4 separate regions of the Homo sapiens genome follow, and all the other regions are linked to region 1. Evidence: fine-mapped expression QTL. A gene starts in region 1. Each other region holds a variant in brackets. All regions are shown on one strand. Distances are from middle to middle.

Region 1 (5,547 bases):
CTTTCTGTACTATAGCACACTACTTCCTACTTCTCATTTCAGTCACAAAACTAATGACTCAAGGGAAATTTCAGGTTTGGATGAGCTCATTTTTGCCTGTGAATCAGGGTAGCTTTGGCCTTAGGTTGTTAGCAGATGGGAATTTGGGGAGGGGAAGGCAGGTAGTAAGTGGATGAGAGGGTTGTAGTTGTCAGTGGAAAGATGGACTAGTGGAAAGACTGCTGAAACCATATGCACCAGGAAGACAGTAAGAGCTTGCTTGCTTCCTCTCAGTTTCAAAAGCCCTGGACTTTTTTTTTTTTTTTTTTTTTTTTTGAGACAGTCTTGCTCTGTCACCCAGGCTGGAGTACAGTGGCGTGATCTCGGCTCACTGCAACTTACCCTGCCTCCCAGGTTCGAGCAATTCTCTTGCCTCAGCCTCCCGAGTAGCTGGGATTACAGGTGCACACCACCACGCCCGGCTAATTTTTTTAATTTTTAGTAGAGACGGGGTTTCACTGTATTGGCCAGGCTGATCATGAATTCCTGACCTCAAGTGATCCGTCCACCTCGGCTTCCCAAAGTGTTGGGATTACAGGCGTGAGCCATCATGCTTGGCCAGCCGTGGACTATTGAGATTGTGGGAGGGCTCTTCAATTTAACAAAAATTAATTGATACTTGTTCCTTGCCAGATAAAGAACTGAGGTCTGAGGCTGCACGGGTGAATAAGAAACATTCTCTGGGAGCCCATAGTACAATGGGGAAGAAGAACACATAAACAGATGCCTTTAATAAACAGATATAAATGCAGTGATACAAGAACATGCATCATAATACGGAACCAATAAGCAGACCACACTCAGCTGGGGTCGGCCAGGAGGAGCTTTTCAGAGAAGGGCTCCTCATTGTCGTTGATGATTATAATTTAAGGGATGAGGAAAAATGAGGTGAAAAGGTGGGAGAGGCCAAAGGGAGGGTCATTCCAGACAAGTCAGTGCAAACAAAGACACAACAGAAGTAGCTCGATGTGTGTAGGAGAGCTGCAAGGCACATTCACGGTATAAAGGGTGTGGAACAAATTGGGGGAGCTTATTGAGGATCTCTGTGCCTGGCATGGGCACTGTGAGTGGTGAGAAGCCTGTGAGCAAGCGCAGAGGGAAGGCCTGACCTCCCAGCCCATCGGCAGTGCTCTGGTTGTGCCCACCTCTCCCCCAGCAAACTGCCTTTCCTCATTCCTTAGCTCCATCTCTACAGTTGGAGATTGGCACTAAGGGGCTATGAGGGAACCTCGTGAGGACTTGTCCTTCCCTTTGTTGGTCAGTGGCCATCTGGTGTCTGAAGAGAACCGCTGGCAGCTGCAGTGCCTCTGCTACAGCCAGGCTGTCCCAGCTGCTCACAGACCTCAAGCTCAGCCATCCTTCTCCCTCCACTGGCCTTGACCCAGACTTTCCCTGGCATTCTGACTAGGGAACCAGGACCCCTGCTCCTGGGGTCTGGACACAGACCTTCCAGAAACGCAGATGAAGAGCCCTGGCCATGCTTGTCAGGGGCATATCCTCACCCTGGCTCAAGAAATGGCAGGCTATCTGCATGAATCACAGCTGGGCCTTTCATAGTCAGTTCCACATTCTCCTCTCCCAACTGAACAAAGTTGAAAGGGACTGGGATCCCAGGCTAGGCAGGATGCTGTGTTGTTTGTGACAGCCACTCTACCCTCTGCCACCCCATCCCCCACTTCCCTGCCTTTCACAGCCTATATGCCTGGTTGGTACCCAGTAAACTTCACAGCAGGACTGATGTTTGGCATGTTTCCTGGCCTCTTCATGCCACTACTGATAGAGGAGCCACTATCTCTGGTCTCCATCCTGATGTCATGTGGAGGCCTACTATCTGTGGATAGAGTTACTGCTGACAAGGCAGCCTGAAGCTTTAAAGTGTATCCATGCCTTCAACAAAGATTGTTGCAGGCTGTCTAGTATTCTACATTGGTGCCCCAAGGTTCTGTGCCTTTGAGGAGAAATTCCCACAGAAAAACAGCTTGTTCGCCAATAGCTCCACAGCAGCCTAACACTCCCCTTCTTCCAGTAGAGAAGACCTAAGATGTGAACCTACTCTCCCTGCGCAGGCTACAGACTAAAGGCTAGACTCCGCAGTCTGCCTGTCACCTCCTCTCCCACTATATATTCCTACCTTGGTGTACCCTCTTCAGGCGCCTGGAGCTGCACCTCATTGCTGTGTGTGTGTGATTTGTGGTTGTGCACATGCTCTCCACTTTGTCAAGGACCACTTTTGTCAGCATACTGCTGTTCTTTCTTCAAGACTCAGCTTCTTCAGCTAGCCCTGCCCACTCTCGGCAGAGTCAGTCCCTTCCGCTTGTGCTCCCACATTGCCTCTTGCTCAAAAGTACTTACCATAACCTTTCCAGGCTAGGCGCCTCCAGCTCCTTCTAGGGGCGAGCCACCACCTCAGAACTCACTATATTTGCAAAATAAACAGCCCTCAGCATTGTAGAGGGAATGGCCCAAAATCTTAGACCCAGTTCAACGCTCCACTTCGCGGTAATCATCTTGCTCAAGTTTTCACCACAGCCTTGCCTAGCCTGGGCTACTCTTAGGGCAGGCTTGGAAGGAAGTGCAGCTTCCTGAATTAGCTGATGTTTGGTAAGTGGTGGTGGAGGAAAAGGGTGGGGCTTGAGGATATTATAACTCGGGTCACCCCTGAGTGTTGCTTTTGGTCATTGGGGTGCCTCATATTGCCAGACAAGAGCTCAGACCTGAGGAGAGTGACTAGCTTCTCTGTGTCCCAGGTAAGCACTTCGGTCTAATTACTGCCTGCTCCTTCCACAGCTGTCTTGTCCTCATCCCTCCTGTTTGGCTCACACCAGGGGAAGTGGACACTGGAAAGATTAAGCCAGCTGGTTCTCTTTCTTTGTTTTTGAGATGGGGTCTCTCTCTCTATCACCCAGACTGGAGTACAGTGGCACAGTCAGGGCTCACTCCAGCCTTGACCTCCTGGGTTCAAGTGATCCTCCCACCTCAGCCTCCGGAGTAGCTGAGACTACAGGCGCACACCACCACACCCAGCTAATTTTTGTTATTTTTTTCTAGCGATGGCGTTTTGCCATGTTGCCCAGGCTAGTCTCACATTCCTGGGCTCAAGCAGTCTGTCTGCCTCAGCCTCCCAAAGTGCTGGGATTACAGGTGCAAGCCACCACACCCAGCCTGCCAGCTGGTTCTCGATGGCAGCTCCCAACATCAGTAGAGGTCCCTGGGGTACTTTTCAGGAGGAAAACTCACTTCGTGTAGCCCATTCAGCTAAGGGAAGCCACGGGGCCCTTAGGCAAACAGACCCTGGGCTCTGGGGATACTGCAGTGAAGGAGACATGTCCCTCCCCACAGGGAATCTCAGTGGGAAGAGACAGAGCTGAATACATTTACCTAGCATATAAATATTAGGGCTACTTGGGGATTGCTTCACAGATTCTGTCATGTAAAAATGCTGAATAAATATTGAATGGATGAGGGAATGAATGAGTGAGTGAATGAATAAATGAACTAGCTGGGCCTTGAGAAAGACACGTGTGTAGCCCTTAGTCCTTTTCGAAGGTAATTGCCCCAGTTACCTCATTTTATCCTTGAAATAGACCTGCAGCATAGAACAAGAATTCCACACCCCTATTTGACAGATTTGGAAACTCAGCATAGGTATGTATGGTTTGGGGAGATTTATCAGAAGCTGATTTGTTGCTTTATTAAATAAAAAACTACCCACTCCCCTTGCTTCCAATTTTGGAAAGGCACATTAGCACATACCTATACCAGACCCTGTGCCGGCCATGAGTGCAGAGGTGATCAAGTTGGGTGGGGTAAGGAGGTGAAGAAACTAGAAGCAGAGCTATCAGTTTAGGAGGCTGTTGTAATAATCAGGCCGGAGGATGGTCTGGTGCAGTGTGTGGGAATGGGGAGGAGGGGATGCAGAGGAGAGCTCTTAGAGAGCCTGAGATCCAATTGCATAGAGGAGGTGAGGGTGAGGGATGCGCGCAGGCAGCCCGAACGGCCGTGTGAGTGAGCACACTTCGATGTCTCCAGTCAAGGTGGAGAACAGAAGAGCTTTGTGGGGGTAAGGTGATGGAAAAATGAGTATGGCTTTGTTGAATTTGAGGAGCTTCTCCACCATCCAGATAGTGATGTCTAACAGACCACTGGGATTTAGGATTTGGCTGAGGCCAAAGGTAGATTTGGGAGCCCTGACACAGCTATTAATGAAACCTTGGGAATGGGCGAGATAAAGGGAGTGTAGAGGGAGGGCATGACCGAAACTTGGGAACCCCATTGTCTGAAGGAACAGAAATTACTGATGAAGACTACGAGAGACTCAGGAAGGAGACCTAGGAGAGACTGGCCGTGAAAGCCAAGGACAGGGGGAATTCTGTAGCAAAGAGAATGACTACTGGCTTTGCATGCCTGAGAGAGGGCAGCAGAGGTGGGGACTGAGGAAAAGGCTTGGGATTGGGCAGTTAGGAGGTCACCAGTGACCACGTGGAGGGCAAATTAGTGAGCATAGTGGGAGTAGGCAAGGAGGGGAGTGTAGGGGTGGGAAGGTACTATATTTCCAGAAGTTCTGCTGTTGCAAGGAAGGGAGGTAAAGTGACTCAGTGGACAGATGTCTCTTCCCATATTGGGCCCTCTGCTGTGTTTCCCTTTTCCCCCACCCCTAAAGAGCACCTGACTCACTGAGGGCTCCCTTGGGACTATGGAAACAGCAATACCACCTCCAGCTCGGATGAGCGAAGTATCTGACATTTCTACAGTTCCTTACAGTGTGCAAAGGACCACTAACTCCTTTAATCCTCACAAGAACTGAGCTTTTCATGTTATAGAGGAAATGGAGAATCATAGAGTTTCAGTTCAGATTCAACTACATAAATCTGAATGCACATCTGAGCAAGTTCCTTTGCTCTCGTGATCTCATTTGCCCCACACAACCCTTTGATACATGTTGGTCCCATTTCACAGATGAAAAGCCTGGAGGTTGAGATGGGGTGCAGCTGCCTTGTGGAGAGCAGGGTTCCCACCTCTGAGTACAGGGCTCTTTCTGCTCTGCATCACTTCACTGTTAAAACCCACCTGATGTTTATGTTGCACACTACATCTCATAAAGCATTTCCCCAGGTGTTATTCTATTTAGTGCTCACAACAACCTTGTGAGGGTAGATATTATTTCCTCCTGTTTTATGGATGGAAGCTGAAATTCAAAGAAGTCATAAATGACGTCCAAGGTCAGGTCACTAGTGGAACCCCTTTCTGAAGCACAGATCCACCCCTGTCCATGACCCCTGTTGCCTTCAGGATGAAATTCATGTGCCTTAGCCTGGCACAATGGCTGTCCCTTTTCCAGCCTGCCTGCTTCTCTGGCAGGTCTTTGGTTCCCTCTTTGTTCCAAGCCTCTAGCATGTCCCTGACCTCCCAACCACAGCAGCATGTCCATCTATTACATGTGGCCATCTTGCTCACTGCCTGTGCTAATCATACTGTGATTGTTGATGAGACTGTGAGGTCCCTGAGGGC
Region 2 (5,547 bases), 170 kb before region 1:
ACCTAGGCTGGAGTGCAGTGGCGCGATCTCAGCTCACTTGCAACCTCCGCCTCCCAGGTTCAAGCGATTCTCCTGCCTCAGCGAGCAGCTGAGATTACAGGCATCCACCACCACGACCAGCTAATTTTTGTATTTTTAGTAGAGACAGGGTTTCACCATGTTGGCTAGGCTGGTCTGGAACTCCTGACCTCAAGTGATGCGCCCGCCTCGGCCTCCCAAAGAGCTGGGATTACAGGCATGAGCCACTGCGCCTGGCTGAAAAAAAAAAACTGAACTTCTGAGACATACAGTAACATGGGTGAATTCCACAAACTAATATTGTGCAAAATGTATGATTCCATTTTTATAAAACTCAAGAGCAAGCAAAACTAATCTATAATGATCGAGGTCAAAATAGTGGTTGCTTCTGGGGGATACTGACTAGGAGGGGAAATGAGGGAATGTTTTAGGGACCTGGCAATGTTCTGTATCTTGATCTGGAGGGTGACTGCCCCAATGTATACATGTAAGTGAGGATTCATCAAACTGAAGTCTAAAATTGGTGCACATTACTGAATGTATGGTGTACCTCAAAAAGTTAGAGAAAAAAAGGAAACAGTTAAACAATTTCTGGGTATAGTGCACAGTTGTTTTTGTCCCCCTCCCCCTGCATCCATTCCCCCTTAATCTGGAAAGAGCCCTACAACCTTCTTCTTTTGGGGTTGTATCACTCCCTCTCTCAATGTTTTAGGTGGAGCTGACTCAGCTTTAGGCACATGACCCAGGCCCCAAATCAGAGTGCCTTTTCCCCTAGCCACAATGATTAATTCAGGGATGAGAACAGGACTAAACCAGTTGAGGCAATCCCAGATATTTTGTTGGAACTAGTGGAGAAAGGTGTTCTTTCCACTGTTGTTACTAACGTATCAGGATAGAAGCCTGGGGCTGCCAGTGGCCACCTTGGCACCTCTTGGAGAGAGCTTGCCTGAGAAAGGGCACACAGAGGAAAGCAGAGGGATAGACAATTCTTCCTGATGAGACCATCTCCGAGTCTGGGTCCAGCTATCATTGTATGTGGATTTTTCATTAAGTGAATCAATACATTTACCTTTTTAGCTAATCGCTTTGATTTGGGTTTCTAACACTTTAATAATTAGAGTCTACTACACTGGGATCATGGGAATGGACAAAATTATGAGAAAAATGGAGGGACTTGGAATATAAACATTGAGCCTTGTCTCATCTGTTTTGTGGGTGCTGCCCCTGCCCTGAGTGGCTGCTCACCCTGTGAGACCATGGCACTGACAGGAGATGGGTGAGGCAGGCTGCAGGGGCCATGTGGGAGGTACTCTGGTCCTCACTCATAAAGGGTTCCAGAGGAAGTCTAGAGAACTGGATTCTACTCTCCATTTTGTCATTTCTTAGAGGCAAGACCTTGGGCAAATCATGATACCTTTTTCAGCCTTGTTCCTTCTCTCCATGGTTTTTATTTATTTTATTTTTTATTTTTTGTAGAGATGGGATTTCACCACGTTGGCCAGGATGGTCTTAAACTCCCGGCCGCAAGTGATACACCCGCCTTGGCCTCCCAAAGTGCTGGGATTACAGATGTGAGCCACCCTGCCTGGCCTCCTTCTCTATATGGAATATTAACTCTTAGCTCAAAGGTTGTTATGCAGATGAAATGCTAGCTTTCCAACCTCTCCAGCTTTTTCATGCCCTTGGCTGAGTCAGCTCCTGCATCCTGGGCATTCTTATCATTGTCATCATGATCTTTGACTGTGTGTGAACCCCTAAGGGCAAGAAAGTGTTCATCTCTAGGTCCCTTTACCAACAGGGCTGGCCACACAGCTGGTAGGGACTACAAAGTGGTCTTGCAGGCCGGAGGCTCACGGTATGATAGCCCACTCACCCCCTGCCCTTCATTTCCTTGCTTGGTAGATGGGGCTGAATCTGACATACTAGGTGGCTTAGAAGGACTCTGGGGAATTGCTGAGGCAGTCTGATCATGGGAAGCTGAGAACCTCCCTTGGGGCTGTGTAGAGCCTTTCACAGCTGACCAGGAGCAGGGGCTGAGTGGCACTGAATGGGAGCTGAGGCTGCCTGGGCCCCTTCCTCAAATCTGGCTGTCTACAGTAAAGGATGGACAAAGAGCTCTTGAGGCCATAACATTCCTTTCTTTTTTTAAATTTTAAAAATTATTATTTTTAGAGACAGGGTCTTGCTCTGTTGTCCAGGCTGGAGTACAGTGGCATAATCATAGCTCACTGCTGCCTTGAACTCATGGTTAAAGCGATCCTCCTGCCTCACCCTTCCAGGTAGCCAGGACTACAGGAATGCACCACCACACCTGGCTACCTTCTTTTAAAATTTATTATTTATTTATTTTGAGACAGGAGTCTCACTCTGTCACCTAGGCTGGAGTGCAGTGGCACGATCTTGGCTCAATGCGACCCTCCGCCTCCCGGGTTCAAGCAATTCTCTTGCCTCAGCCTCCCAAGTAGCTGGGACTACAGATGTGTGCCACCAGGCGCAGCTGATTTTCGTATTTTTTATAGGGACGGGGTTTTGCCATCATGTTGGCCAGGCTGGTCTCGAACTTCTGACCTCAGGTTATCCACCTGCCTTGGCCTCTCAAAGTGCTTGGATTACAGGCGTGAGCCACGGCGCCCAGCCTTCAAATTTATTTTTATAATTTTTTTTTTTTTTTAGATAGAGTCTTGTTATGTTGCCCTGGCTGGAGTGCAGTGGTTATTCACAGGCATGATCACAGCATACTTCAGGCTGGAACTCCTGGGCTTGAATGGTCTTTCTGCCTTAGCCTCCTGAGCAGCTGGGACTATAGGTGCATGACGCCGCACCTGGCCATAACACTCCTTCTCAGCTCATTTTTGAGTCATGAAAAATGCTCTTTCAAGAATCACCAGGCCTATGATAAGTCCCATGGAACAAACCTATCACTGTGTAAGAGCTGAGCAGGAGAAAACCATCTCTCCTCATACACCTCATTTGTTCATTCAATAAAAATTCATGACACACCACTATGGACATCAGGAAGTAGAGATGAATAAGGCTGGGTCTCTGCCCTAAGTGATTAGCCTGGAAAGCCATACTGGACACAGTGTCCATACTGGCCTCCTTGTCTCCTTTCCTGCCCCTCCCTGCACTCCTTTACATAACAGCCAGAACAGTTCTCTCAAACATAAAGCAGATCCCCAGCTTAAACCCTTTAAAGACCTTCATGAGGCCCTATGTGACAGGAGAAGCAGGAGAAGGTGGTGGATGAGAAGATGAGGCTGTACTGAGTTCAGGGCACCTGAACTCAAGGGAGACTTTCACAGGGTGCTCGACTCTGTCCCAACTCCTAAAGTGACTACTGGGGACTACTGAGGTCTGAATGGGGTGGGGGTGAGGGGTCAAGACAGACATACTAGATCCAATGGCAATATGGCTCAAAACCCTAGGTCTGTTAAGTTGTAGTCTGGCCCATGAGGGAAATTCTTTATTTGGATGCTTCAGTGACCAAGAGACAGAGCATTAGGCACACACAGAAGCACACACATACACACAA[A/CA]CACACACACACACACACACACATCCACACACAATATGCAAAGCAAAGGCATTTCACAGGTGAAGGGATAGGGAGTGGGGGAAGGAGGCCACGAGAGCAGCTAGGGGCTTCTTTGACACAATGAAGAGAAGCCTCTGATGGTGACACTCCTTGGAATTCTCGTCTCAAGGTTACAAGGAAAAATCTATCCGTGTGGACTCAGTCCCAGGCCATAAAACACAGCAAAGATAGAGAAATCTGGGTGTGGGGCCTGGGAAACGCCTGTTCCTCACTGTAGAAACCTGCATCAGCTCTCTCTTTCTTTCCCTGGGACCCAGAAATCACCCGGTGGATGATGGGGAAGGCTAGCACCACAGCAAACTGGGCAAGTGGTCCGCTGCACAAGGGGGAAGAGAGGGCTAGTAGGGCCGAGGGTAGCAATGAACCTCACAGCTAGCGGGCATGAGGCAGTCTGCCTTTAGGGGCAGAACCCTCAGGGAGACTTGCATGTGGGGCACTTTCCCGTGTAACCTAGGGTCAGAGCACCTCTGATGGAGGAGGGGAAAGGTCCCATCCCCATTGGAGTGTCCTATGATCTCAGTGGACATGGAGGCCGCCCCCAGCCCCAGCTCGTTGCCAACTGCTGCAGATCCTTAGCACCATTCAGGAACTGTGGAGGGGGCAGCGGGGGTAGCAATGCTCCGCCAAGATTGTGTCACTGCTCCAGGAGGATACTTCACAGTTGGCAGAAACCTGCGCAACTGGCCATATCTGGTCTAAGACTCAGGAAAGCCTGCACCTTCTGGGGGAAGGCAGAGTGTCGTATTAGCTCCAAGCTCCCATGTTGCAGCCATTTCCTCTGTTTCCTGCCCTGCCCCAGGTTTGGCATGAAAGTTCCAGGTTTTGCTGGAAATGTCTAGGGCCCAGAGAGATCTCTGCTCTTTAGTTGCAAGAACTGGCCCAAAACTGACCTTTAGAGGAAAGACAGGTGGCAGGGGCCTCAGCACCTAAGGCCCAGAGGGGTTGGGAAATGGGGAAAGCCACCCTCCAAACTACCACCCCGCGAGACCCCGAGTCTCTCAATACCCTTGCCTCCCCTGTCATGACCTACAGGACCCCTGCCAAAGGGGAGCAGCAGGAGTGAATTAGCCCGGACCAATGAGAGGCTGTCTGTGGCCCAATCCTGCCTCAGGCCCGTGTACTTTCCTGGTGAGAACAACGAGCAAGAGGGAGCCAAGGGCTGAGCAGTCACGGGAAGCTGGCTCATGGCTGGCCCAATATGGGATGCTGGGCAGAATCACCTCTAGTCTTCCAAGGTGGTTGAGTCTTTCTGAATGGGTTGCCTTTGCATTGGAATCTGGCCCAGGGATGATGCCACTGTTTTTGGTGACCTGTATTTGAGAAGGAACAAAGGAAGAGGGTCAGTGTGTGGCAGCTGTATTGGCCTACTGCAATGATAGCACTGCCCTTCCAGGGCCTTGGAGTAATAGACAGGACACCTTTCCTTCACTGAGGTCCACTGTGGGCTGGCAGAATGCTGGATGCTTAGCTTCCATCATTCCATCCTCATGGCAATTCTGCAAGGTGAGAAACAGCACCCTCATTTTACATACAAGGAAACTAAAGTTCAGAAAGCTTAAGTGGCTGGCCCGAAGTATGTTTTTAGGTGGTAGGTTCAGGACTGTAGCCAATGCCTTTTCACTATACCAAACCACTGCCTACAGGGCCCTATAAAAACTCATTCCATTTGGTAGTGGCAGAGTAAAATGAATGGGCTTCGAAGTCAAACAGGCTTGAATCCCAGGTCTAACTGCAAGTAACTAAGTGACCTTGGGGAAGTCAATTAACCTATCTGATAATTAGGCTTTCTTTGGTTGTAAAAGATGGGTTTGGGAGGGGGTATCCTAATTTCAGACCTTTTGTTGAGAAATTTAATGAGACTCAATCAGGTATTCAACAAATTATAGCTTTATTCTTACAGAATTAGAGGCTTTTTTAAAATTTTGAGACAGGATCTC
Region 3 (5,547 bases), 180 kb before region 1:
CCAAGACACCTGCTGTTTCGCAGCTGCAGTGAGCTCCAGGTAGAGCCTCTGAATGTGCCTGACTGGCTGACACCGTGGCGTCTTTGCTTATGCTGCCTTTGTTGCTGAGCATTCTTCCTCTGGCCTGCCTATCTGTCCTCCCCGCTTTCCAGGCATTCTACCAGATACCTGCCATTCAGCAGGTATTTCTGGACTCCTCTCAGGCATTCCCTTTTCTTTTCTTTTCTTTTTTTGAGATGGAGTCTTGCTCTGTTGCCCAGGCTGGAGTGCAGTGGTGCAATCTCAGCTCACTGCAACCTCCACCTCCCGGGTTCAAGCAATTTTCCTGCCTCAGCCACCCGAGTAGCTGGGATTACAGGCACTCACCACCATGCCCAGCTAATTTTTATATTTTTAGTAGAGATGGGGTTTCACCATGTTGACCAGGCTGGGCTCGAGCTCCTGACCTCAGGTGATCCACCTGCCTCGGCCTCCCAAAGTGCTGGGATTACAGGCGTGAGCCACCGCGCCTGGCCAGGCATTCCTTTTTCTTTCAGATCCCTCCTGGCCACCCTAAACTGGACATTAAAACCCTTTTCCTCTCTCTGGTAACGACCCCTCAAACTTTTCTTGATGTCGTGGTCCTCCCCTACTAGCAGTCCACGGGGGACTGGATGAAACCAACACTCCTCCTTGGCATTTATGGTGGACATGTGACCCAGACCTGGCTAAGGAGAATATTCCATCTCCCAGGCCATTGTGATTAAGTCAGAGATGAGCATGTGACCATGGGAGGGCCAATGGGAGCCAGTCTAGGTCTTTTATTGGAATGAATAGGAAACCAACTCTCTGAGAAGCTGAGCTGTGAATAGGGATGCCTAGAGTTGCTTGGGAGAGCTTCTCTGTGAAAGACAGCAATAAAGGAAACAAGAGGGCCAAGAGCTGGAGTGCACCCGGATCAAGCCTTGCCTGAAGCCATTCCTTCTTTGAACATTTCACTATGTGAACCAAATAATTTTTTCTTCGGCTAATCCTTTTTCTTAAACCCTTTATAAATAAAAGGCTCCTTCTCAGTAGAACACCCTTCCTTTGTGTCTCCACTCTCCTCTGTTGGCTCTTTGGCCATAGTACTCATTTGTTTACATGGCAGCAAATTCATCCTGTTTTCACTGCTATTTGTTTAAAACCTTTTAATAAATTTCCATGGCTTTTAGGAAAAAGACCTGTATTAGTTATCCATTGCTTCATAACACATTACTTTTAAACTTAACGACTTTACATAACAAATATTTGGCTGACTATTGGTGTTAAAGAAAAAATTATTCAAAGATACTTGTTTTTATGTTTATTTATTTATTTTTCTTGAGAGTCTCGCTCTGTCGCCCAAGCTGGAGTACAGTGGCGTGATCTCGGCTCACTGCAACCTCCGCCTCCTGGGTTCAAGCGATTCTCCAGCCTCAGCCTCCCAAGTAGCTGGGATTACAGGCACCTGTCACCATGCCCAGCTAATTTTTGTATTTTTAGTAGAGACGGGGTTTCACCATATTGGCCAGGATGGTCTCAAACTCCTGACCTCAAATGATCCACCCACCTCAGCCTCCCAAACTGCTGGGATTACAGGCGTGAGCCACCACGCCCGGCTCAACGATACTTATTAAAGCACAGTAAAGAAAACTTTATTCAGGACCATTGAGATAGTCACAGGGACCACTGCAATGGGATCTTGCAGAGGGGGAGAGAGATTGGGCTCCATTCTGAATACAGCATGGGCGAGTGGGAATTCTGAGCCAAGGAACAGAGTGGGGAGCAGTGAATGGAAAATGACTAAGAGGAAACGTTGGGGTAAAGGGGTTCTGTCCAAACTGACCCAACAGGATTCTTGCTGAAGACAGGCCCATCAGCCATCACCTGGGGGATGGTGGAGGAGGAGGAACCTGATCAGATATCGAAGATGGGCGGCAGTTCTTGCTAAACTAGACTTAGCAGGTTCTTTGCTAAAACTAGATTTTACAAGGAAGTGCACAGATGGACCTAGGAGAAGGCTCAGAAGCCTGACTAAAATTTGGCCAACCAAAGAATCTTTGTCATTGGTAGAAGACCTACATTTCTCTCAACAACAGCCTCTTGATAGGGCTGCTTGAGTGTTCCCACAACACGTTAGCTGGTTTCCCTCAGAGCTGGTGATCCAAGAGAGAAATATTGAAGCTGCAATGTAATGTATAACTTACTCTCAGACATCAGATTCTTGTCACTTCTGTCTTATTCTATTAGTTAAAAGTGAGTCACAGCCAGGCACAGTGGCTCACGCCTATAATCCCAGCACTTCAGGAGGCTGAGCGAGGAGGATTCCTTGAGCCTAGGAGTTTGAGACCAGCCTGGGCAACGGAGTGAGACCCTAATAAAAAATATTAGCCAGACGGGCGTGGTGGCTCACGCCTGTAATCCCAGCACTTTGGGAGGCTGAGGCAGGTCAATCGCCTGAGGTTGGGAGTTCGAGATCAGCCTGGTCAACCTGGTGAAACCCTGTATCTATTAAAAGTACAAAAATTAGCTGGGCGTGGTGGCGGGTGCCTGTAATTCCAGCTAATTGGGAGGCTGAGACAGGAGAATCGTTTGAACCCAGGAGGCAGAGTTTGCAGTGAGCCGAGATTGCACCACTGCACTCTAGCCTGGGCGACAAGAGAGAAACTCTGTCTCAAAAAAAAAGGAAAAAAAAATTAGCCAGGCACAGTGGCGCATGCCTGTAGTTCCAGCTACTCAGGAGGCTGAGGTGGGAGGACTG[T/C]TTGAGCCCAGGAGATCGAGGCTGCAGTGACCTATGATTGTGCCATGCACTCCAGCCTGGGGGACACAGCAAGACCTTGAGTCAATCAATCAATCAGTAAGTAAAGTGAATTGCTACTTACAGCCCATATTAGGGGATATAGGGTAGAAATTAAACTTGACCTATTGAAGGGAGGAGTATTAAAAAGTGTAGATTTTTTTGTTTGTTTGTTTTTTGAGACGGTGTCTGGCTCTGTCGCCCAGGCCGGGGTACAGTGTTACTCATCTCGGCTCACTGCAACCTCTGCCTCCTGGGATCAAGCCATTTTCCCGCCTCAGCCTCATGAGTAGCTGGGATTACAGGCACCCACCACCATGCCCGGCTAGTTTTTTTTTGTATTTTTAATAGAGACGGGGTTTCACCATGTTGTCCAGGCTGGTCTTGAACTCCTGATCTCATGATCCACCTGCTTTGGCCTCCCAAAATGCTGGGATTACAGGCGTGAGCCACCATGCCCGGCCAAAATGTAGATATATTTTATTTTTATTTAAAAAAAATTCTTTTTTTTTTGAGACGGAGGGAGTCTTGCTCTGTCGCCCAGGTTGGAGTGCACTGGCGCGATCTCGGCTCACTGCAAGCTTCGCCTCCTGGGTTCATGCCATTCACCTGCCTCAGCCTCCCGAGTAGCTGGGACTACAGATGCCCACCACCATGCCCGGCTAAATTTTTGTATTTTTAGTAGAGACGGGTTTCACCGTGTTAGCCAGGATGGTCTCGTTCTCCTGACCTCGTGATCCGCCCGCCTCGGCCTCCCAAAGTGCTGGGATTACAGGTGTGAGCCAACTTGCCCGGCCAGGAATCCCTCCTCTGTCTGACCTAACTGCCCTCTGCCCTGGAGCTGCTCAGCCTCTATCAATTTTTCTGGCTCTCAGCGAACGTTTTCATTCAGTTGCAAGACACAGAAACTCAAATTCAAACCTGCTTACACAAAATAGTGAATGTACTGGCTCATGCACTTTTTAAAGAGATGAGGTCTGTTGTGCTGCCCAGGCTGGATGTGAACTCCTGGGCCTAAGAAATTCTCCTGCCTTAGTCTCCTGAGTAGCTGGGACTACAGGAGCATGACTGTAAGTCCTGGTGTGAATCAGGCTCCAGAAACAGCTTGATCCTGGTTCCCAACAGTATGGTCAAAACTCATTCTCTCTTCTGTCTTCTTCTCTATGACAGGTGCTCCCTAAGAAGTGACAAAGAAGGCCACTAACAGCTCTGGGCTCGAGACATTCCCACTTGGCAACTTCTCAACTGTTCTGGCAAAAGCCAGGAGAGTGGAGGTCTTCCCCACCCGGACTACATAAGCTGAGGGTGGGGTTTTTCAAAGAAAAGCTTATTATAGGAAGAAGGGTAAACAGACACTAGGAAGCTTCTGATTATTATACCTAGTGATTCTGTGAGCCTTTACTGCACAAACTGTTCCCAAACTTAATTATTTAAAACAATGTATTATTTCTCACAATTCTGTGATTAGCTGGGCTCAGGTGGCAGTTCTGCTTATGCTGTGGATTGGCTATGCTAGAGGGTCTGGGATGTCCTCCCTCACATGTATGGAGCTGGCTGTTGGCTTCTCTCTCTACCTGGTCTGTGGTCGCCACATGGTCTAGCCCAAACTTCCTTTCACAGGGTCAGGAACGGAAGCTGCATGAGCACTTAAGTCCTAACCTTGGAAGTCGTACAGTCATGTTACTGAATTCTCTGATCAAAGCAACTCACAAGACTAGTTCAGATTCAAGAGACTGGGAAATGGACCCCCCCCCTCCCCCGCCCGCCCGATCTTGATGGGAGCAATGATAAAGTCACATTGCAAAAGGACACAGGCACAGGGAGGCAATGATTCATGGGAGGCCATTATTGAAACAATCAACTGTGTTCCACAACTCGCCTCTTCTAGTTCCTTTCACTAAGCCTCCTCCCACCCCAGCAACCTGGCTCCTTTGACCTTCATGACCACTAGAGGATCATCTCCCTCAATAAGTCTTTCCGGCCAGGTGCGGTGGCTCACGTCTGCAATCCCAGCACTCTGGTAGGCCGAGGTGGGAGGATCGTTTGAGCTCAGGAGTTCAAGACCAGCCTGGGCAACACAGTGGGACCTTGTGTCTACAAAAAATAAGATAATTAGCTGGGTGTGGTGGTGTGCGCCTGTAGTCCCAGCTACTCGGGAGGCTGAGGTGGGAGGATCACTTGAGTCAGTGAGGTCGAGGCTGCAATGAGCTGTGTTTGCACCACTGCATTCCAGCCTGTGTGACAGAGTGAGACGCTGTTTCAAAAAACAAACAAAATAAATGTCTTTCCTGTGAAATCCCAGCAATGGTCCCTACCAGACCATACCCATTTTTATTCATTTATTCATTAATGTATTCAATCACCAAGCAGTTATTAAAACATAAGCACAGTCCTATGCTAGGGACCAGGGATGCAGTATCATAAGACCCAATTCCTGCCCTCAAGCAGTTTCTAGTCTAAAAGAAGAGACAGGGAATTAGATCATCGTAACACAGCATATTAAGGGCTATGCTAGAGGGGAACACAGGGCATCTGGGAACACAAAGGGCAGCCAACTTGGCCTTGGGGGCCAGTGATCTCTGGATGAGTGGAGGTCCCCAGGTTGACAAGGGGAGCTGGAGCAAGTATTAGGCAGAAATCTTGGTTGCAAGTTATAGAAACTCAACTGACTTAAAGAAAAGTCATAACTAAAAAGTCCTGGGGGATATTAGCTTCAGGCATAGCTGGATCCAGGTAGTCATCAGAAATGA
Region 4 (5,547 bases), 110 kb before region 1:
TATAGTATTTTGTTTGTTTGGTTTTGTTTTGTTTTTGAGATGGAGTCTTGCTCTGTCATCCAGGTTGGAGGGCAATTACATGATCTCGGCTCACTGCAACCTCTGCCTCCCAGGTTCAAGCGATTCTCCTGCCTCAACCTCCTGAGTAGCTGGGATTACAGGCACCAGCCACCATGCCTGGCTAATTTTGTATTTTTAGTAGAGACGGGGTTTCACCATGTTGGTCAGGCTGGTCTTAAACTCCTGTCCTCAGGTGATCCCCCCACCTTGGCCTCCCAAAGTGGTGGGATTATGGGCATGAGCCACCGCGTCCTGCCTCTTTTTTTCTTTTTTGAGATGGAGTCTTCTTCTGTTGCCCAGACTGGAATGTGGTAGCGTGGTCTCGGCTCACTGCACCCTCAGCCTCCCGGGTTCAAGTGATTCTGTCTCAGCTGCCTGAGTAGCTGGGATTACAGATGTGCGCCACCACGTCTGGCTAATTTTTTAATTTTAGGTAGAGACAGGGTTTCACCATGTTGGCCAAACTGGTCTCGAACTCTTGACCTCAAGTGATCTGCCTGTCTCAGCCTCCCAAAGTGCTGGGATTACAAGTGTGAGCCACCATGCCTGGCCTAATTTTATGGTATCTTTAGGGACGCAGGGAAGCAGTGTCTTCAGGGGATGCCAGGTTTTAATTTAGAGACTTTCTAAGGACAGATTGAGGGCAGAGGGGAGTCTGTTGATCACAGACTGGGATTTACAGAGGATTTTGGGTTAGAGTCAAGTAATGCTTTCCAGCCTTTTCTCCATTATAGTCCACATAGAAAATGAGCATATCTGTATAGCATGTTAGAGTAAACAGATAAGGTTGCTCCTCCTCATCACTGCAGTGACAGTTTGGGAATTCCAGCCACTCTACATGCCCCGCTGGGCCACCCTTGGAGCTGGAGGGATGTATGTCCAGAGCCATATCAGGAAGAGAGTCCAGCTGCAACAGATAGCCGTCATATCTTGAACCCTGACAATGTCTGAGGCAAGCAGGCTGGGGATTAACCACAAATCTCTGAGAATTGAGCAGTTAACGCTGTGTGGTACTTAGCTTGACATGTATTGCTCCATTCTGCATGCATGAGTTATGTGATCTTAGGTAAATTCCTTAACATTTGTGAGGCTGCTTCTCCATCTGTAAAATGAGGAGATGATACCCACCTCAAATGGTTGTTGTGAAGATTAACTAATATAATCTCCGTAAACTACTTAGCACATTGCTTGGCACATAGTAAATGGTAGCTATGTAGTTTATTCCAAAAGCTATATTTTTCTGATAATTTAACATACTGATGTATTTTTAGTAGAGATGAGGTTTCACCATGTTTGTCAGGCCGGTCTCAAACTCCTGACCTCAGGTGATCTGTTCTCCTTGGCCTCCCAAAGTGCTGGGATTACAGGCATGAGCCACCGTGCCTGGTCTATACTCCTTTCTTACCTGCAGTACTTCAATGGCTTCTTGTTGCTTACCGGATAAAGTTAAAATGTCACGTGGTATAAGAGACCCAGTATATTCTACTTCCTTTTCCACCCACTTCCAATACTCTCTCAAGTACCAAGCCCTGCTGGATGAACTTTAGCACTGTGGTAGGTTCTCCAACTGGGGAATCCTTTCACACCCCTTTGCCTTTATTCATTCTATTCCCATTGCCTTTATTTATTTATTTATTTATTGAGATGGAGTTAACGCTCTTTCACCCAGGCTGGAGTGAAGTACTGTGATTTCACCTCACTGCAACCTCTGCCCTCCCAGGTTCAAGCGATTCTCCTGCCTCAGCCTTCCAATATTACCTTTAATGTCCTTCTACCATCTCCTGTTGTCCATTTGACAAACTCATTCAACTTCCACCCCAAGTTTCAACCACAGCATTACATATTGTGCAGAAAAGAATTAACATAGTAGGTTTGAGGCTATAGTAGACCTTTGAAAGGTCTGCTCTCAAGTTTGGCTTTTGGCTGGCATCTGGGAACTTGGATTTCAGAAGTGTTTCCAAATTCCATATAAAAGTGGCTCACTGCAGCTGGGCACAGTGGCTCATGCCTATAATCCTAGCACTTTGGGAGGCCGAGGTAGGTGGATTGCCTGAGATCAGGAGTTCGAGACCAGCCAGGCCAACATAGTGAAACCCTGTCTCTACTAAAAATACAAAAAATCAGCCGGGCATGGTGTTGCACGCCTGTAATCCCAGCTACTTGGGAGGCTGAGGCAGGAGAATCGCTTGAACCGGGGAGGTGGAGGTTGCAGTGAGCTGAGATTGCACTCTAACTTGGGCAACAAGAGCGAAACTCTGTCTCAAAAAAAAAAAAAAAAAAAAGAAAAGAAAAAAAGTGGCTCACTGAGTCTAAACTGTTTGTGCAAACAATATAGTTTATGCTGAACATCTACTTTCCTTCTGGGAGTGTGAAACTTTGGTTTGCACTAGGCAGAGTGGTAAGCTAGGCAGCCTGTGTAACTGACCCCTGATAAAACCCTGGATTCCTAGGCTCAGGCAAGTTTCCCTGGTAGATACCACTTCACAAATGTTGTCACAATTAGATGCTGGAGGAATTAAGTGACTCCACTGGGAAGGTACTCTTGAAACTTGTGCCCAGTTTCCTTTGGACTTCATCCCAGGTGCTGATTTTGCTTTGTATCCTTTGGCTGTAATAAATCATAGTGTAAGTGCTGTAGTTTGAGAAGCATTGGTTGCTTTTTTCCTTGTGGTTTTTAGCTTGTATCTCTATTGGCTGTGTTTCCTTTAACTGGAAGTTATATCTAAACACTTGGTGTATTTAAGTCAAATATTTTGGCTAGAATACGTCTTTGGAGATGTTGCATGATTCATGTTGTGTAGCATCTGAAGAACATAATAACATCATATCTGATTAATTCGCCAAGTGAAGCTAAATTGACCACCGGATTAGGGTAATGGTAGTTTAAACCTTCCATTATGTAAATAAGTTTCCTCTCTTATGATCAGAAAGTATCTTTGTGTGTGTGTGTGTGTGTGTGTGTGTGTGTGTGTGTGTGTTTGGATGCAGTC[T/G]TGCTCTGTTGTCCAGGCTAGAGTGCTGTGGCATGATCTCAGCTCACTGCAACCTCCGCCTCCTGAGTTCAAGCGATTCTCCTGCCTCAGCCTTCCAAGTAGCTGGGATTACAGATGTGCACCACCAAGCCCGGCTAATTTATGTATTTTTAGTAGAGCCATGTGGGCCAGGCTGGTCTCGAACTCCTGACCTCAGCTGATCCACCCAGCCTCCCAAAGTGCTAAGATTATAGGCATGAACCACTGTGCCTGGCCCTTTTTTTTTTTTTGATACAAGATCTCCGTCTGTCACCCAGGCTAGAGTGCAATAGTAAGATCATAGCTCATTGCAGCCTTAAACTCCATGGCTCAAGCAATCCTCCTGCCTGAGCCTCCAAAGTAGCTAGGACTATAGGCACATACTACCAAGCCTGGCTAGTTTTATTATTCATTTTTTGTAGAGATGGGGGTCTCACAATGTTGCCCAGGCTGGTCTGGAACTCCTGGCCATAAGTAATCCTCCTGCCTTACTGATTTTTAAGGTAAGAGCTTGTTTAAACATCTACTTTGAATGGGCACAAATGAGTTTTTACTTTTTTGAATATCATTATGGAATAATTTATTTTTTTCATTGATTCAGTGTGGTTTCTTTTTGTGTGGTTTTTGGGTTCTTTTTTTTAGACAGGGTCTAGCTCTGTCACCCAGGCTGGAGTGCAGTGGCGCGATCTCAGCTCATTGCAACCTCCACCTCCTGGGTTCAAGTGATTCTCTTGCCTCAGCCTCCCGAGTAGTTGGGATTACAGGTGCCTGCCACCGCGCCTGGCTAGTTTTCGTATTTTTAGTAGAGACAACATTTCTCCATGTTGGCCAGGCTGGTCACGAACCCCTGGCCTCAAGTGATCCACCCAGCCTCCCAAAGTGCCGGGATTGCAGGTGTGAGACACTGCGCCTGGCCCTGAAGTCAGTTTCGAAGTCAGTAAGACTCCATGACCCATTGAATCTGTGGGGAGAGGGGCTTTGTGGTGGTGGTCTAGGAGGCTTATAGCTTGAGGGAGAGTGGATAGTAATGTCACTAAGAGAGACAAATAATGTGTTAAATATACAGATTTTGAGGGGAAGATCATAAATTTGGTTGTGAATGTTCTGGGTTTTAACTTTATGTGGGACATAACAGGTGGAAAAGTCAAGTAGGCAATTGAGATTCGATGCTAGGAACCAGGACAGGAAAAACAGATTTGGATGCCAGTCACCAGGATGTAGAAAATCTCCCTAGCAGGGTGCGGTGGCTCACGCCAGTAATCCCAGCACTTTGGGAGGCCAAGACGGGCGGATCATGAGGTCAGGAGATCGAGACTATCCTGTCTAACACGGTGAAATCCCATCTCTACTAAAAATACAAAAAATTAGCTGGGCGTGGTGGCGGGCGCCTGTAATCCTAGCTACTCGGGAGGCTGAGGAAGGAGAATGGTGTGAACCCAGGAGGCAGAGCTTGCGGTGAGCTGAGATTGTGCCACTGCACTCCAGCCTGGGCAACAGAGCGAGATTCCGTCTCAAAAAAAAAAAAAAATTAAATCTTCACAATTTATGTTCCTCTGCCACGGCTCCAGCCGGTCCCTCCGTTTGGGGTCCCTGACTTCCCGCAACACATCTCCAGAACTCTTTTCACCGTGTTGCCTGTGCTTTTGATGTCATATTCAATATATTATTGCCAAATCTAAGGTCATGAAGATTTTCCCATATGTTTTCTTCTAAGAGTTTATTATTATTATTATTATTATTACTTTTTTAAAGACAAGGTCTCACTCTATTGCCTAGGCTGGAGTACAGTGGCTCAATCATAGCTCACTGCAGCCTGGAACTCCTGGGGTCAAGGGATCCTCCCATCTTAGCCTCCTGAGTAGCTGGGATTATAGGTGCACACCACCATAGCCAGCTAAATTTTAAATGTTTTTATAGAGATGTAGTCTCACTATGTTGCCCAGGCTGGAGTATAGTGGCTATTCACAGGCATGATTATAGTGTACTACATCCTTGAACTCCTGGGCTCAAGTAATCCTCTCACCTCAGTCTCCTGAGTAGCTGGGACTACTGGTATGTATCACTGTGCCCAGCTTATAGTTTATTCATTTTTAATTACACAGTAGTGGTTCTTTTTTTCTTTTCTTCTTTTTTTTTTTGTGACAGGGTCTTGCTTTGTCACCCAGGCTGGAGTGCAGTGGAACAACCTTGGTGGCTCACTGCAACCTCTGCCTCCCGGGCTCAAGCTATCCTCCCACCTCAGCCTCCCGAGTAGCTGGGACTACAGGTGCAAGCCCAAGTCCAGCTAATTTTTGTATTTTTTGTAGAGATGGGGTTTTGCCATATTGCCCAGGCTGGTCTCGAACTCCTGAGCTCAAGTGATCTCCCCACCTTTGCCTCCCAAAGTACAGGGATAACAGGCATAAGTCACCACACTTGGCCCAGTAGTGGTTCTTAAAATAAAATCAGAGCATTACAGATATATTAAGGTTTCTTTTGT

Alleles and levels. Alleles are on the strand shown, and positions count from the first base shown. SD is a standard deviation of normalised expression in the study named. Not every link is listed here.
As copies of CA replace A in region 2, the expression in macrophages of the gene that starts at base 2,707 in region 1 goes up (large effect, 0.85 SD a copy in Alasoo 2018).

What was found. PIP is the estimated chance that this variant, and not a neighbour inherited with it, causes the effect.
Region 2: its variant is the best candidate, but not a certain one, in a credible set for the expression of HK3 in macrophages (Alasoo 2018, PIP 0.66).
Region 3: its variant is the best candidate, but not a certain one, in a credible set for the expression of HK3 in whole blood (TOPMed, PIP 0.53).
Region 4: its variant is the best candidate, but not a certain one, in a credible set for the expression of HK3 in whole blood (TOPMed, PIP 0.73).

Annotation. Positions count from the first base shown.
Region 1 is chr5:176,896,506-176,902,052 of GRCh38, reverse strand. HK3 (hexokinase 3) reads left to right here and starts at 2,707. Exons shown (of 19, transcript NM_002115.3): 1 at 2,707-2,786. RefSeq lists an enhancer at 1,386-1,887.
Region 2 is chr5:177,063,885-177,069,431 of GRCh38, reverse strand. It overlaps ZNF346 (zinc finger protein 346), which reads right to left. Exons shown (of 7, transcript NM_012279.4): 7 at 1,447-4,920. The coding sequence ends at 4,833. Among named protein-coding and RNA genes, the nearest start is that of FGFR4, 20 kb to the left of the region's middle. The variant A/CA (reference allele first, on the strand shown) is at 3,551.
Region 3 is chr5:177,072,833-177,078,379 of GRCh38, reverse strand. It overlaps a transcript of ZNF346 not described here. Among named protein-coding and RNA genes, the nearest start is that of FGFR4, 11 kb to the left of the region's middle. The variant T/C (reference allele first, on the strand shown) is at 2,762.
Region 4 is chr5:177,010,853-177,016,399 of GRCh38, reverse strand. It overlaps a transcript of UIMC1 not described here. Among named protein-coding and RNA genes, the nearest start is that of UIMC1, 6.8 kb to the right of the region's middle. The variant T/G (reference allele first, on the strand shown) is at 3,051.